Homo sapiens: one gene and its partner. The protein of the gene in region 1 interacts with the protein of each later gene in a pairwise test. Each region holds a gene or a part of one and is shown in the gene's direction. Other genes may lie near its edges.

Region 1 (2,599 bases):
AATTTAAAAAACATGTTGGCTTTGTGACCGACTCTTGAGAATTACAACTTTTTTAAAGTGTCTATTATGTACTTTAATATTCTCTTTGGCAGATATTGGGCAGTTGCATTACCTGTCTACCTCCTTATTGCTATAGTAATTGGCTACGTGCTCTTGTTTGGGATTAACATGATGAGTACCTCTCCACTCGACTCCATCCATACAATCACAGGTAACTTTATATAAAAGGAAAGTGCTGGGGCAATGAAAGAGTGGAGTATTAGCACTTTTACCCAGAAAAGCAACAAAGAACAGGCTGCAAAACCCATGTTGGTGGTGCGCGTCTGTAATCCCAGCTACTTGGGAGGCTGAGGCAGGAGAATCACTTGAACCCAGGAGGCAGAGGTTGCAGTGAGCCAAGATCCCACCACTGTACTCCAGCTTGGGTGACAAGAGTGAAACTCCATCCTAAAAGAAAACACACACACACACACACACACACACACACACACACACACACACGGACAGTAAAAAGAAGCTACTAAGAGAAATAAATACAAACTTATATAAAAGGAAATATTTGCATGAAGGAATTAAGTTCTGATGAATACACACTAGCTATATTCATGGAGGAAATAAATTATAATTAATTATAGCACTGGTTAGCAGGTGTATGTTCCCATAAAAACCACAAGTATATGCTATATGTGTCTATAATATGTTCCCATTAACTTTGCCTGAGAGAAGCTTATCCTGAACAGACACCGTTGATCAAGGGATAGTAAATAGTACATGCAGACCTTGTTCAGAAAAAGGACTTTGGGGGTGTGTATCCTCCTCAGGATCATTGTGTACTCCTTATTCCAATTAAGTGGATAAAAGAGCCACAACACGTTCGTCTGGTTTTATTTTTTTAAAGTTCTTTCAAGTCTAAAGATGAAAATAAATCAGACTCCTGAGCTTGCTTAAATTCTAGAAAGTAAAGTATTTTTTAAGTTCCCTGGTATGATTTTTCAACTTTTCAAAACCTTTATATATTAGCCTCTACAATGTATTTTGAAAATCAATTCTATTATTTTTAAGTGTCTTTCTAATACACTGCATTCCATGCATTCTTGATTGGAATTGGCAGCAAATAGGTAATTTGTGCAAAGAGGGGAAATTGTTAAGATTGCATGAATATTTATACCAAATGATTTAATAGTTTTGCCATGTTGATTTAAATACATTTTCAAGGCCTGGATATAATTCTGTTCCCGTGAGAAATGTGCAAATGAGACTTTAATCATCATTGTATGGTTGATTAAAATATTGATTTCTTTCCAAGTTAGAGATGAAAAAAGTACTTTACTGATGTTTTTATTTTTTTATTTTTATTTATTTATTTATTTATTTTTTATTTTTTATTTTTGAGATGGAGTCTCGCTCTGTCACCCAGGCTGGAGTGCAATGGCGCAATCTCGGCTCACTGCAGGCTCCGCCCCCTGGGTTCACGCTGTTCTCCTGCCTCAGCCTCCCGAGTAGGTGGGACTACAGGCGCCCGCCACCTCACCAGGCTAATTTTGTGTGTTTGTGTTTTTAGTAGAGACAGGGATGTTTTTATTTTAATTGGGACATTTCTTCTAAAGAGAGGATTTAAGTAATCATCTAATTATGTTAAACATGATGTTTGTCACTATCCAAACGTCAGCCTAGTAAACTATGTGGTGGGTCTCCATCAGACACAGAGACTGTAGAAGAAATTGCTTAGGTAAACAGAGCTTTTTGGTCTTTTCTTACAGATAACTATGCAAAAAATCAACAGCAGAAGAAATACCAAGAGGAGGCCATTCCAGCCTTAAGAGATATTTCTATTAGTGAAGTAAACCAAATGTTCTTTCTTGCAGCCAAAGAACTTTACACCAAAAACTGAACTGTGTGTAACCATAGTAACACCAAGCACGTATTTATTTATAAGTTTTTGCCATTATAATTTTGACCATAAATTAATTTGACCATCTCTCTTATTAATAGAGAAGTAAAAAATGTAAGTTGACCTTCTCTTAGATTATGTTCAATGAATATTGTAAATGTTCAAGTATTGTTAATGAATAGAATAAATACAATATTGCATTCCCATATAGCAGACTTAAAAAAAAAAATCAATGTCAGTATAATCAAGAAGTTCCTCCAGAGAGGCATTTATATTGTAATTTGCAAAGGGCAATGATGTCCTTCCTCCTGTTTGTCCTGAGGGGCCCAGAATTCAAACCCTTAGTTTTTGGGAAGGGTACAGTTAGTACTTGTGCCATCAGATTCATGTCTAAGACACAAATATTTGTTGAGTACTCACTGTGTACCAGGTATTTTTCTAGGCACTGAGGATGAAGTAATGGTAAGATTCTCTCTCAAAGAGCTTATAGTTTTAGAAGCAGGGTGAGGCAACTAAGCAAATAAACAAGGAAATATAATTTGATGAGTGCTATGCAAAGAATTAAGATAATGTATTCTAGAATGCAAAGGGATGACTAGTTCACATTGGGTGGTCAAGGAAGGCCTCTCAGAGAGAGGCTGTTGGGATCTAAGTATAAAGCAGGTGAGGCAAAGACCATAAGGTGGGAAGGAACTTGGTTTGTCCTAA
Region 2 (3,500 bases), on another chromosome or scaffold:
GCCCTTGAAAGACGGACAAGGTTCATACAGGCAAAGGGGCGCAGCAGGTATCTTAGAGAAACGTAGAATACCTTTTTCGTGTGTACCTGCTCTAGATAAAGGTAGAATACCTCATACCATGTGTGAAGCTACAGAGACGATTTACCCTGGAGGATGTTCAGGAAGCGGGTGGGCAGAGGACCTCCAGAATAATCCTGCCCACAAGGGAAAAAAGGTGATACCTTGGCAGCTAGCTGAGGGATTAGAACCTTGGCAAGGGGGAGCTGTTTACATTTTTTAAATTTTATTATTATTATTTTTGAGACCAAGTCTTGCTGTGTCACCCAGGCTGGAGTACAGTGGCTTAATTTCGGTTCACTGCAACCTCCGCCCCCTGGGTTCAAGCAATTCTCCCACCTTAGTCTCCCTAGTAGCTGGAATTACAGGCGTGCGCTACCACGCCTGGCTAATTTGTATACTTTTAGTGGAGACAGGGTTTCGCCATGTTGGCCAGGCTGGTCTCAAACTCCTGGCCTCAAGTGATCTGCCCTTCTCGGCCTCCCAAAGTGCTGGGATTACAGGCTCATGCCATTTTTTCTTTTTTAAAATTTATGGTAAAATAAACATAGTACAGGTATTACCATTTTAGCCATTTTTTCGCAGACAATTCAGTGGTAGAGTAGTCCCCGCTTATCCACAGGGGATTCATTCCAAAAACCCCAGTGGATGCCTGAAATCTCAGATAGTACTGAACCCCATCTATACTGTGTTTTTTCCTGTACATACATACTTATGATAAAGCTTAACTTGTAAATTAGGCACAGTAAGAGATTAACAATAATAATAAAATAGAACAACTATAACAATATACTGTAATAAGAGTTATGTGAAAATGGTCTCTCTCACTTAAAATGTCTTATTTACTATAGATCTTAGAAACCTCAGTACACAGTTCTTTTTTTTTTTTTCTTAAGTCAAGAACTTTCACCTTTTCACTTAAAGGAAGCACTTCTTGTTGGCATGTCCAAATTGCATCACTATTCTTGTGCTTTGGGGCCACTGTCATGTAAAATAAGGGTTACTTGAACACAAGCGCTGTGGTACTCTACTAAGCGTTTATAGCATGGACACAAAAGGATGATTCACTTTCCAGGCAGGATGGAGCAGGGTGTGAGATTTCATCACGCTACTCAGAACGGTACATAATTTAAAATGTATGAATTGTTCCTTTCTGGAATTTTCTTTTTCTGTTAAATTTCTATTTAATGTTTTCGGACTGCAGTTGACCACGGGTAACTGAAACCTAGGAAAGCAAAACCGCAGATAAGAGGGGACTACTGTTGTTTTTTTTTTTTGAGACGGAGTCTCGCTCTGTCACCCAGGCTGGAGTGCAGTAGCGCCATCTCAGCTCACTGCAAGCTCCGCCTCATGGGTTCACGCCATTCTCCTGTCTTAGCTTCCCGAGTAGCTGGGACTACAGGCGCCCACCACCACGCCCGGCTAATTTTTTGTATTTTTAGTAGAGACGGGGTTTCACCGTGTTAGCCAGGATGGTCTTGATCTCCTGACCTCGTGATCCGCCCACCTCGGCCTCCCAAAGTGCTGGGATTACAGGCCAGTGCCTGGCCTGGGGGGACTACTGTATTAAGTAATTCATGTTCCTCACCACCATCCATCTCCAGAACTTTACCTTCCCAAACCGAAACTTGACACCCATTAAACACTGATTCCCCATTTCCCTGCAAACACCGTTCTATTTTCTGTCTATGTAAATTTGACTGCTCTAGGTACTTCATGTAAGTAGAATCATACAATAGACCTTTTGTGTCTGGCTAACTTCACTTAGCATAATATTCTCAAAGTTCATCCATATTGTAGCATGTCACAATTTCCTACTTTTTCAAGGCTGAATAATATTGTTGTATGTGTATATTACATTTTGTTTATCCATTCATCTATGATGGACAGTTGAGTTGCTTCCACCTTTTGGCTATTGTGACTGATGCTGCCATAAACATGGGTGTACAAATATCTTCTTGAGACCCTGCTTTCAGTTGTTTGGGATGTATGCTCAGAAGTGGAATTGCTATATCATGTGGTAATTCTGTGTTTGATTTTTTTGAGGATCCACCATATAGGTTTGCACAGCAGCTGCACCATTTTATATTCCTACCAGCAATGCATAAAGGTTTCAGTTTCTCTACAACCTTGCCAACACTTGTTACTTTCTGTTTAATGGTAGTCATCATATTGTGTGTGAAGTGGTATCTCATTGTGGTTTTGATTTGCATTTCCCTAGTGATAGTGATGTGGAGCATCTTTTCATGTACTTATTGACCATTTGTATATCTTTGGAGAAATGTCTATTCAAGTCTTGTCCCATTTTTTAGTTGATTTGTTTTGTTCTTGTTCAGTTGTATATTTATATCCTTTAAAAATTTTTTTTAAAAAATTGATCGTTGAATCAGTCCTCTCTCTCTTTCTCTTTTTTTTTTTTTTTTTCTGGCGATGGAGTCTTGCTCTGTCACCCAGGCTGGATTGCAGTGGCACCATCTCGGCTCACTGCAACCTCCACCTCCCGGGTTCAAGCAATTCTCCTGCCTCAACCTCCTGAGTAGCTGGGATTACAGGCACACGCTGCCACACCCGGCTAATTTTTTGTATTTTAGTAGAGACGGGGTTTCACCATGTTGCCCAGGCTGGTCTCAAACTCCTGAGCTCAGGCAATCCGCCTGCCTTGGCCTCCCAAAGTACTAGGATTACAGGCATGAGCCACTGTGCCTGACCTTTTTTTTTTTTTTTTTTTTTTAAGAGATGGGATCTTACTCTGTTGCCCAGGCTGGAGTGCAGTGGCACAATCCTGGCTCACTACAGACCCAAACATCTGGGCTTGAGGGATCCTCCCACCTCAGACTCCTGAGCAGCTGGGACTGCAGGCGTGCACCATCACGCCCAGCTAATTTTAAAATTTTTTGTAGAGATAGGGTTTTGCTATGTTGCTCAGGCAACTCTCCCGGCCTGAAGCCATGCTCCTTCCTCTGCCCCTGAGTTGTTGAGATTATAGGCGCAAGCCACCTCACCTGGCTGCATTCTTGATCCAGCGAGTGACATGAGTGAAGTAGTGATTTAGGACAGTCTCCTATCCACTGGGTCCAAGCAAGTGTAAGTTCAGAGACAGCAATAGACAAAAGAATAGAAATCACAGATAGGAAGAAAGCTTATACTTTAAATGATGGGATCACTAAAGGCCAGCTCTTCTCTTCTACCCCTGTCTTGCATTTCTCTTCCCCCACCTTCCCACCTATTCCTCCCTCACAGTCTATAAAGACTTCCTAGAGAAGATATCCTCCAGGAACCTTGAAAGGAAGGGCCACATTATGACTCCTGAGCCCTGGGCACTTCTGTCTTTGTGGGCTCCTCCTTCACTTAAAAAAATATTAAAAATCATATTTTACAACTGCATCAGTGTAAGGAAGAATATAATATAATATAATTAATATTTATAATTAGTAATTGAATGG

The links. Proteins that work in one complex are often made in the same cells at the same time.
Region 2: the proteins of PIGP (region 1) and SMAGP interact in binary tests that used the Homo sapiens proteins (3 or more experiments, as listed by UniProt).

Annotation. Positions count from the first base shown.
Region 1 is NC_000021.9:37,064,874-37,067,472, reverse strand, and holds the end of PIGP (phosphatidylinositol N-acetylglucosaminyltransferase subunit P), read left to right. Parts: intron 1-92; coding exon 93-211; intron 212-1,760; coding exon 1,761-1,891; 3' UTR 1,892-2,099; downstream 2,100-2,599. UniProt on the Homo sapiens protein: Part of the glycosylphosphatidylinositol-N-acetylglucosaminyltransferase (GPI-GnT) complex that catalyzes the transfer of N-acetylglucosamine from UDP-N-acetylglucosamine to phosphatidylinositol and participates in the first step of GPI biosynthesis.
Region 2 is NC_000012.12:51,263,916-51,267,415, reverse strand, and holds part of SMAGP (small cell adhesion glycoprotein), read left to right. Parts: intron 1-3,500. UniProt on the Homo sapiens protein: May play a role in epithelial cell-cell contacts. May play a role in tumor invasiveness and metastasis formation.